Regions from separate parts of the Homo sapiens genome. Here region 2 is linked to region 1. The links come from fine-mapping of genetic effects on gene expression. A gene starts in region 1. The other region holds a variant in brackets. All regions are shown on one strand. Distances are between the middles of the regions.

Region 1 (5,364 bases):
AAGATGTCACCTCCACATGGCCACTGGAACGGGTCAGACTTTCCGCAATTTTTTTCTTTTCTTTTTTTTTGTTTGAGGCAGGGTCTCGCTCTGTCACTCAGGCTGGAGTGTAGTGGCGCTCACAGCTCACTGCAGCCTTGACCTCCTGGGCTCAGGCAATCCTCCCACCTCAGCCTCCCAAGTAACTGGGACTACAAGCACACACCACCACACCTAGCTAATTTTTAAATTTTTTGTAGAGACAGGGTCTTGCTATGTTGTCCAAGCTGGTCTCAAACTCCTAGACTCAGGCGAGCCTCCTGCCTCAGCCTCCCAAAGGGCTGGGATTATAGGCATGAGCCACCGCACCTGGCCCCTTCCACAAATTAAAACTCTTAAGTTCATTCATATTGTTGTACAGCCGTCACCACCATTCAGAACTTTTTCATCTTGCAAAACTGAAACTCTTTCCCTATTAAACAACAGGTCCCCATCTCCCCTTCCTGAGCCCTTGGCAACAACCCTTCTACTTTCTGTCCCTGTGACTACCCTACGTAGCTCACACAACAGGAATCATGCAGTATTTGTCTTCTGTGACTGCTTCCTTAACTTAGCATCGTGTCCCCAAGGTTCGTCCATGCTGTAACATATGTCAAAATGTCCTTTTTTTTTTTTTTTTTTTTGAGACAGGGTCTCACTATGTTGCCCAAGCTGGAGTGCAGTGGCGTGATCACAGCTCACTGCAGCCTTGACCTCCCAGGCTCAAGCAACCCTCCCACCTCAGCCTCCTGGGTAGCTGGGACTACAGGTACGTGTCACCATGTATGGTTAATTTTTTTGTAGAGGTGGGATTTCACCATGTTGCCCATGCTGGTCTCAAACTCCTGGGCTCTGGCAATCTGCCTGCCTCGGTCTCCCAAAGTGCTGGAATTACAGGTGTGAGCCACTGTGCCCGGCCTGTCCTTCCTTTTTAAGGCTGAATAGTATTCTACTATGTGTATGCACCACATTTTGTGGATCAAGTCATCTCTTTTTTTTTTTTTTTTTTTTTTTTTGAGAAGGAGTCTTGCTCTGTCACCTGAGCTGGAGTGCAGTGGTGCGATCTTGGCTCACTGCAACCTCTGCCTCCTGGGTTCAAGCGATTCTCCTGCCTCAGCCTCCCGAGTAGCTGGGATTACAGATGTGCCTCACCAAGCCCGGCAAGTTTTTGTAATTTTAGTAGAGGCAGGGTTTCGCCATGTTAGCCAGGCAGGTCTCAAACTCCTGACCTCAGGTGATCTGCCCACCTCAGCCTCCCAAAGTGCTGGGATTACAGGCGTGAGCCACTGAACCCGGCCCAGGTATCTTGATAGATGCTTGGTTTGCTTCCATCTTTGGGCTGTCATGAATAATGTCGTGAATATGAACATGGGTGTGCAAATATCTCTTCCAGACCCTGCTTTTAGTTCCTTTGGATATATACCCAGAAGCAGGATTGCGGATCATGGGTAATTCTATGTTTAATTCATGAGGCATGCCATGCTGTTTCCATAGGACCTTGGGCACTTTTACCATGGACGTTGGGGCAGTCTTCACTGGCTTACCAGCCTCCACACCTTCATATCTGCCCGTTCCCTTCCCAGGATCTTTCTAAAATTCACATTTGACTTCATCACTCCTTTAAAACCCTTCAAGAGCTCTCCAGGGCCTTTGGGACAAGTCCAGCCTGCTCAGCTGATGCACCGGGGAGCATCTGTGATCAGACCTCCCCCCCCCCACAACCTCTCCAGCCTCATCTCTCTCACCTGAGGCATCACCAATCCACCTTCCTACCCCACGCAGTTTTCTGGGTTGGAATGCCCTTGCAACCAACCACAGTCCTTCCATGCCAGCCCAAAGGCGCTGAGTTCTTTTTCTTTTTTTATTTATTTTCTTTTTGTGAGACAGAGTCTCGCTCTGTCGCCCAGGCTGAAGTGAGGTGGCTCGATCATAGCTCACTGCAGCCTCCAGCTCCTGGGTTGCAGCGATCCTTGAGTTCCTTTTCGTTAGTTAACTGGAATTCACTGTCTCCTTGCCCATTGCAGTCCACGGCCTTCAGGCACCGTTGGACTGGTATTCAGCACCCTCGATCGACCCTTTCCGTGTCATCTCCCTGCAGGCCCGTGAAGCTCCCAGCGCCAGACCCGAGAGGCTACGTCGAGGTTTACAGGCAGATCCCCCCAGAGTCCCCGAGGTGACCTGTAATCGAACCCACCCACGTTCCAGCTCCTTCCCCACTCCCAAGCCCGCTCCTTAAAGCCCTCATCTCCTCACCCTGCATCACCCCTACCGTAAGGGTCCCTCACAGGCTTCGATCCCGGCCCCTATCATGGCCAAGCTGGACCTCAGTTTCCCCAGATGCAGAGCGACGTTTGTGGGCGCGGCCCCTCTCCCACCCCTTACCGCTGGGGGCAGCTCCCAGGGCGGGTCACTGCCGCGCTGCCGCTCGCAGATCAGACAGGTCCGGATGCCCTTGCAACCGCATTCCCGAAGGACTTCGGGGGTCTCGGCGGCAGCCGCCGCCATCGCGCCGTCCGCGTGGCCAGTGCGCAGGCGCGGCCGTGGGGGCCGCTGGGAGTTGTAGTCCGCGCCGGGCGGGGGCACGAGGCCTGGGTTCCGCTTCCTTCCGGTCGTTAACGCCCACGGGCTCGCGCGGCGCCGCCTCCTGGGCTCAGTTACCGCGGACGCCAGTGCCGGGCTCCAGGAGACGCAGGGCGACGCCACACGCCGGGGTGGCCGACTGGGTCAGCGCGGGCTGCGCCTCCTCGCCATGGGCCCCCTCTCGGCGCGGCTGCTAATGCAGCGCGGGCGCCCCAAGAGCGACCGGCTGGGGAAGATCCGGAGTCTGGAGTAAGAGCCGGGCAGCGGGTGAGGCTGTGTCCTCGGGGCCGGGCGGTCGGGGAGAAGAGCGGGGACCCTCCCCAACGGCCCGCTTGTCCCCGTTATCGCCCTCTGGGTTCGGCAGAGTGGTCCAAATGTCTTCTTGTTGGGAGATCGTGGCCCCACCCGCTCGCCGGGAGCCCCGAGGGGCCTCATCCCCTGAAGGGAGCCCGGACAGTTAGGGGCACAGCCTGCCGCTATCGTTAGAGGGCCTGGGAAGCACAGACGAGCCCCCGAAGGATCAGGAAGAGCATCCTAGAGGGGGCTAGGATGCCCCCGAGTCCTAAAGTAGTTGCAGCTTTTTTTTTTTTTTTTTTTTTTTTTTTTTTTTTTTTGTTAAGTGGTGTGGAGTCGGGAGTAGTGGCGCGCGCTTCTAGTCCCAGCTACTCGAGAGGCTGAGGCGGGAGGATCCCTCAGCCCAGGAGTTGGAGGCAGCTGTGAGCTATGATCGCGCCTAGGCGACTGAGTGACACCCCGTCTCTAAAAATAAAGTAACGGGGGGATGGGCGGGGCGGCTACACTTGTACGAGAAATGTCAGGTGAAAAAGCCTTCTGAGGTACCCGGGGCAGATTGGTGTAGGGTGCAAAGCCTGCCCGCCCCCTAAGCCTTCTGCCCCCAACTCCAGCCTGTCAGGATTGGAGCTGCTTTCCGAGCACCTGGACCCCAAACTCCTGTGCCGCCTGACGCAGCTGCAGGAGCTTGACCTGTCTAACAACCACCTGGAGACGCTGCCGGACAACCTGGGCCTGTCCCACCTGCGTGTCCTCCGCTGCGCCAACAACCAGCTGGGGGATGTTACTGCCTTGTGCCAGTTCCCCAAGCTCGAGGAACTCAGCCTGGAGGGCAACCCCTTCCTGACGGTAAGTGGGAGCCTCCCACCAGCTTCATACCTGGGGCCAGGACTCTGTTGGGCTCAGGCTCAGCATCTCCTGAGCCACTGCTCTTCACCCTCTCTTCCCCAGGTCAATGACAACCTGAAAGTCTCCTTTCTCCTGCCCACGCTCCGTAAGGTCAATGGCAAGGATGCGTCCTCAACTTACTCTCAGGTGGAGAACCTGAATCGGGAGCTGACCAGCAGGGTAAGGGGATGAGAGGATTATTGTGTGCTTAGGAGCTGTGGGGGCATTGGGAGAATGATAGAATTGGACATCAGGAGGATGTTGAGGAGGGTGACTGATAGAGGCTCTTTGCCCCAACAGCCCCTAGCCTGATGTGCTACTTTATTTATTTATTTATTTTTTGAGATGGAGTCTCACTCCGTCGCCCAGGCTGGAGTGCAGTGATGCGATCTTGGCTCATTGCAACCTCTGCCTCCCAGGTTCAAGTGATTTTCCTGCCTCAGCCTCCCGAGTAACTAGGATTACAAGCACCTGCCACCATGCCCAGCTAATTTTTTTTGTATTTTTAGTAGAGACAGGGTTTCACCATGTTGGCCAGGCTGGCCTCAAACTCCTGGCCTTAGGTGATCTGCCCGCCTTGGCCTCCCAAAGTGTCGGGATTACAGGTATGAGTCACCACACCCGGCCTGACTCTTCTAAGTAGCTTTTTCTGGGGTGTTTCTTTTTTACCTTTTTTTTTTTTTTTTTTTTTTTTTTTTTTTTTTTTTAGAGACAGGGTCTCGCTCTGCTGCCCATGTTGAAGTGCAGTGGTGTGATCGTATCTCACTGCAGCCTCCAACTCCTGGGCTCAAGCGATCTTCCCGCCTTAGCCTTCTGAATAGCTGGGGCTTTAGGCGCATGCCACCACGTCTGGATCATTTTAAAATTTTTTGTAGAGATGGGATCTTGCTCTGTTCCCCAGGCTCCAACTCCTGGCCTCAAGCGATGCTTCTTCCTCAGCCTCCCAGTGGCTGGGACTATAGGCACCTGGGTTGTTGCTGGTGTGTGTGTGTGTGTGTGTGTGTGTAGGCACCTGGGTTGTTGCTGGGGTGTGTGTGTGTGTGTGTGTAGGCACCTGGGTTGTTGCTGGGGTGTGTGTGGGGTGTGTGTGTGTGTGTGTGTGTGTGTGTGTGTGTGTGTGTGTGTTTTATGAGGCTGTGATTCCAGGAGGCTTCCAGCAGGTGGCGGGATTGAGATTCCCTGAGATGGAGGGCTGGGTCCGGAGGAGCTGGGGTGGGCCGGGCCTGGATCTGGTCCCTCTTGCACCAGGTCACAGCTCACTGGGAGAAGTTCATGGCCACACTGGGTCCTGAAGAGGAGGCTGAGAAGGCCCAGGCGGACTTTGTGAAGTCGGCTGTCAGGGATGTCCGCTACGGGCCCGAGTCCCTCAGCGAGTTCACCCAGTGGCGGGTATGTCCCTGTCCCAATGTGCAGGGAGTCACTGGCTCTCGTATCTCTAGCTGCCTGGAGGTCCCTGGCCATGAAGGGCTGAGGGGCTGTGGGAGTGGGGTGAGTCAGGGTGGGCAGCCCTGTTGGCTGGAGAGGCCCTTCCCCAACTCTGGAAGCATAAGCTCCCCCTGACTATGCATCGGCAGGGCTGGGGGCACC
Region 2 (5,364 bases), 27 kb before region 1:
GAGGCCAAGGTGGGCGGATCACTTGAGCTCAGGAGTTCTAGACCAGCCTGGCCAACATAGCAAAACCCTGTCTCTACCAAAAATACCAAAAATTAGCCAGGTATGGTGGCACACACATGTAGTCCCAGCTACTCGGGTGGTTGAGGCGGGAGGATCGCTTGAGCCTGGGAGGTAGAATTTGCAGGGAGCTGAGATTGTGCCACTGCACTCCAGCCTTGGTAACACAGCAGGACCCCATGTCAAAAAAAATTATTTTTAGAGACAGCGTCTTACTCTGTTGCCTAGGCTGGTCTCCAGCTCCTGGCCGCAGGTGATCCTCCCACCTTGGCCTCACAAAACACTGGGATTACAGGCATGAGGCACTTTGGCATGCAAAGGGCCGCTCTGTCCCCTCCCCGGTGTTACCTGCAAGCACCTTTTCCTGGCCTTGGTGTGAGGCAGCCAGTCCTCTGCTCCCTGCCCTCCATTGAAGCCTTTAGCTCAGTGGATGAGGATTGCCCCCCCCTCTTTTTTTTTTTTTTTTTTGAGATGGAGTCTCGCTCTGTTGCCCAGGCTGGAGTGCAGTGGTGTGCTCTTGGCTCACTGCAACCTCTGCCACCACACCCAGCTATTTTTTTTTTTTTAAGACAGAGTCTCACTGTGTCACCCAGGCTGGAGTGCCGCGGTAGGATCTCAGCTCACTGCAACCTCCGCCTCCTGGGATCAGGCAATTCTCCTGCCTCAGCCTCCTGAGTAGCTGGGATTACAGGCGCCCACCACCATGCCCAGTTACTTTTTGTATTTTTAGAAGAGACAGGTTTCCACCATGTTGTCCAGGCTAGTCTCGAACTCCTGACCTCTAGTGATCCGCCCACCTCAGCCTCCCAAAGATGACAGGTGTGAGCTACTGCTCCTGACCCACATCCCCTTACCTTGCTCCCCTACTGGGAGGCCATGAATTCTGGCCTCTTTCATCTTGGATCTTTAAGTACCAAGTGCGCTAAGCACCTGTGTGATGGAGGAGGGAGGACGGAGGGAGCAAAGGTTAGCGTCTCACCCCTCCAGTCTCTGTATACTGCGGTCATCAGACCTGCATGCTCAATTCTGTTAACTATGGGGGTGGGGGGAGAGGAAAAATGCAGTTTCCAAATTACAGCATTTTCTATTATGTGGAGCTAACCTACGGATTGCAGCGTTTCTCTGAATTCTCCCCAAGGGAAGGAACGTCCCAGGGATGGAAGTGCTTGGATGCGGTGCTGCTGGCTGCGGATGTGCGCAAGGAGATGGGATGGAGAGCCTGAGTTGGCATTCGTATAAATGACCTGGTAATTGGCATCCCCTGGCAGAAATAGCACAGAACTGTTCCCAGAGGTCTTGTTGGCCAGGGAAGGCTGTGGCTTTGTAGCCTTGTTGAGAACAAAGGGAAAGGCGACACTGTTTTCCACCTCCAGCACCTTCCTGCGTAATTTCCAAATTGGGGCATTTTCAATTATGGGGGGCTCGACTCTGGCATGGATGGACTAAGTTTGGGGCATTTCCTCAGCTGCTGACCCTGTTAAGCACTCCCCACTCCACCCGTCCACCCCAGCCACGCTCCCTGGGACCTAGAAACACGGATCTGTGTGTAACAGCCTGACATAGACTTTCCGTGGGGCCTATGTGGGCCTGGACATAGAAGTTACTCTTTTCGTTTCTTTTTTTTCTTTTCTTTTCTTTTTTTGAGACGGAATCCTGCTCTGTCACCCAGGCTGGAGTGCAGTGGCGCAATCTTGGCTCACTGCAACCTCCGCCTTCTGGGTTCAAGCGATTCTCTTGCCTCAGCCTCCCGAGTAGCCGGGATTACAGGAGCCCGCCACCACACCTGGCTAATTTTTGTATTTTTAGTGGAGACAGGGTTTCACCATGTTGGCCAGGCTGGAAAAGTCACTCTTTTTGATGTCAAGTAAACCACAAGATGCCTGTGCCCTTGAAGCACGCCCTGCAGATTAATTAGAACTGGATCCTGGCGTGTGGCCGAGCAGCCCAGCTCCTTGGGACACACGCGACCGCCAATCCCCTACTTAGTGGAGATTTGGGTTTAAATTCACAAATCTTGACAGATCTGTCCTTCTGATGTTTAATCCGTGTTAGTCAAACCAGATGTTTACCAGGTGTGAGTCCAGGCATCTCCGCCTTCTGTTTCTCCTTAAAATGTGGTCATGTGAGTTGGTGGATTTCATTTTTCATCTTGCTAAAAGTTTGCCTTGTAGCTTGGATGTGGCTTTAGTTATGTAAGTCCAATATTTTTCTTAGGGTGAACTGTACTGATCAAAATTTAAGTTGAAGGCCAGGTGCGGTGGCTCACACCTGTAATCCCATCACTTTGGGAGGCTGAGACGGGCAGATCACCTGAGCTCTGGAGTTCAAGACCAGGCTGGCCAACATGGCGAAACCCTGTCTCTACTAAAAATATAAAAATTAGCCAGGCATGGTGGCACATGCCTGTAATCCCAGCTACTCGGGAGGCTGAGGCAGGAGAACGGCTTCAACCCAGGAGGCGGAGGTTGCAGTGAGCCGAAATTGCGCCACTTCACTCTAGCCTGGGTGACAGAGCGAGACTCTGTCTCAAAAAATAAATAAATTTAGAAAATAATAAAATGTAAGTTGGATCTGTGAAACTAGCAGCTACTTGGAAATGTTTATTCCATGGCTGGCACCTGGATGTTGGAAGAAGTCTTTCGTCTTCAGATGCATTATCTTATTCAAAAGCCCTAGAGGTGAGGCCGGGTGCAGTGGCCCACACGTGTAATCCCAGCACTTTGGGAGGTGTAAGAGGGAGGATCACTTGAGGCTAGGAGTTCAAGACCAG[C/G]CTGGGCAATATAGTGAGATTCCCGTCTCTAGGAAAAATTAAAACATTAGCAGGCATGGTCCTGTGCTTATGGTCCTAGCTCCTCAGAAGGCTGAGGCAGAAGCTTCCCTTGAACCTAAGAGTTCGAGGCTGCAGTGAGCTGTGATCGTACCACTGCACTCCAGCCTGGGCAACAGAATGAGACTCTGTCTCTATTTTTAAAAAAAGTAGGCTGGACGCGGTGGGTCACACCTGTAATCCCAGCACTTTGGGAGGCTGAGGCAGGTGGATCACCTGAGGTCAGGAGTTTGAGACCAGCCTGGCCAACATGGTGAAACTCCATCTCTACTAGGAATACAAAAATTAGCCAGCTATGGTGGCGGGCGTCTGTAGTCCCAGGTACTTGGGAGGCTGAGGCAGGAGAATCGCTTGAAGCCGGGAGTCAGAGATTGCACCACTGCACTCCAGCCTGGGCAACTCGGCGAGACTGTCTCAAAAAAATATATCAAATCAAATAAAATAAAAATAAATAAAAAGTCCTACAGGTGGAAATATCCCCATTCTCACGATGAAAGAGCCAGGTCAGAAAGGTCAGCTGTCATGCTCAGAATCACACAGTAGAGTCAAATCCAGGTTTCATAACTTTAGGTCCTGGAAGGCTGGGCGCAGTGGCGCATACCTATAATCCCAGCAGTTTGGGAGGCTGAGGCAGGCAGATCACTTGAGGTCAGGAGTTCGAGACCAGCCTGGCCAACATGATGAAACCCCGTCTCTACTAAAAATACAAAAATTAGCCAGGCGTGGTGGCGGACACATAATCCCAGCTACTCAGGAGACTGAAGCAGGAGAATTGCTTGAACCTAGGAGCTGGAGTTTCCAATGAGGTGAGATTGCCCCACTGCACTCCAGCCTGGACGACAGAGTGAGACACTGTCTCAAAAACAAACAAACAAAGAAACATAACTTTAGGTCCTGGGCACTTTCTAAACCCCTGGGCTCTGGCGTGGGCTGTATATGGCAGCCTCTGTAGGTTGAATGGGCTTGGAGTCTAGCTCTTCCAGGCCGCAGTAACCTAGGATGTCTGAGCATGTCTCTCTCCCACCCTTAGCCTGGCTCCCACCATGAGTGCTGAGCTTAACGTGCCTATCGACCCCTCTGCTCCTGCCTGCCCTGAGCCCGGCCATAAGGGCATGGATTACCGGGACTGGGTCCGCCGCAGCTACCTGGAACTGGTCACCTCTAACCACCACTCGGTACAGGCCCTGTCGTGGCGGAAGCTCTACCTGAGCAGGGCCAAGCTGAAGGCCTCCAGCAGGACCTCCGCCCTCCTCTCCGGCTTTGCCATGGTGAGTGTGGGCGCCAAGTGAGGAGCACACTGGTCAGATGGGCTTTGCTAACTGAGGTCCCGGGATGCCTCAGGGACCAGAGCCTTCCCTCCAGTCTCTGGCAGCCAGGATGGACCAGTAGGAAGCATCCACCCACGTCCCAGCTGCTCTAAGAGGACGACTCTATCAGTGCGAGTGGGGGCGCTGGGAGTTGCCAGGGGCTCCCAGCTCTAGAATCTTCAGAAAGCCCACTTTGTCCTGTTCACATCAAGTATTTGCTTAGCAAGGAGGGAGGTTGGTGCGGGGTAATTATAGTAGCTCAGGTTCTGTGACTCACACCTGTAATCCCAGCACTTTGGGAGGCCAAGGTGGGAGGATAGCTTGAGGCCAGGAGTTTGAGACCAGCCTGGGCAACACAGGGAGACCCCTGTCTTTACAAAAATAAAATAAATAATTAGCCGGACGTGGTGGCGTGCACCTATAGCCCCAGCTACTTGGGAGGCTGAGGCAGGAGGATCACTTGAGTCCAGGAGGTGGAGGCCTCAATGAGTTATGTCCACACGACTGCACTCCAGCCTGGACGTCAGAGTGAGACCCCATCTCTAAAAAGAAAAAATAAAATTTATTTATTTATTTTGGCCAGGCGTGTTGGCTCACACCTGTAATCCTAACACTTTGGGAGGCCGAGGTGAGTGGATCACTTGAGATCAGGAGTTCGAGACCAGCCTGGCCAACATGGTGAAACACCGTCTCTACTAAAAGTACAAAAAAATTAGCTGGGTATGGTAGCAGGCGCCTGTAATCCCAGCTACTTGGGAGGCTGAGACACAAGAATCGCTTGAACCTGGGAGGCCGGAGGTTGCAGTGAGCCAAGGTCACGCCACTATACTCCAGCTGGTCAAGAGTGAGACTTTGTCTCGAAATAAATAGATTAATTAATTAAAAAGATAAAATCAAATCAAATCGCTGCATGGTACAGGGTTTCCTGAGAAAAGGCGCCCATGTCTGCCCCGTCTCAGGCACCACCCAAAAGTTTGGAACTCTCAGGGATCTCTGAGCAGGGCCTCAGAGATTGATTGGGGTTGGATCAGTTTAGCCCAGTTAGCGATGCAGACGTTCCTGGAATCTGGCCTCCAGGGTGACAAAGGAGAGCTTTTGGCCTGGCTCCCAGCGGCCGCCTTCCTTCTGAGTCATCCCCTAGGACAAGAGTCAGTTTCCGACAAAGCTGCGGCT

The links.
Region 2: its variant is fine-mapped to the expression of LRWD1 in whole blood (INTERVAL, PIP above 0.99).

The regions. Positions count from the first base shown.
Region 1 is chr7:102,462,314-102,467,677 of GRCh38, forward strand. It overlaps LRWD1 (leucine rich repeats and WD repeat domain containing 1), which reads left to right and starts at 2,671. Exons shown (of 15, transcript NM_152892.3): 1 at 2,671-2,847; 2 at 3,504-3,738; 3 at 3,841-3,957; 4 at 5,026-5,166. The coding sequence starts at 2,768. It overlaps ALKBH4 (alkB homolog 4, lysine demethylase), which reads right to left and starts at 2,550. Exons shown (of 3, transcript NM_017621.4): 1 at 2,401-2,550. The coding sequence starts at 2,523. MIR5090 (microRNA 5090) reads left to right here and starts at 3,429; the gene lies at 3,429-3,513. RefSeq lists enhancers at 2,293-2,942, 3,072-3,598, 3,222-3,321, 3,599-4,124, 4,488-4,547 and a silencer at 2,452-2,881.
Region 2 is chr7:102,435,030-102,440,393 of GRCh38, forward strand. ORAI2 (ORAI calcium release-activated calcium modulator 2) reads left to right here. Exons shown (of 4, transcript NM_001126340.3): 2 at 1,196-1,304; 3 at 3,915-4,152. The coding sequence starts at 3,928. Among named protein-coding and RNA genes, the nearest start is that of ORAI2, 4.1 kb to the left of the region's middle. The variant C/G (reference allele first, on the strand shown) is at 2,828.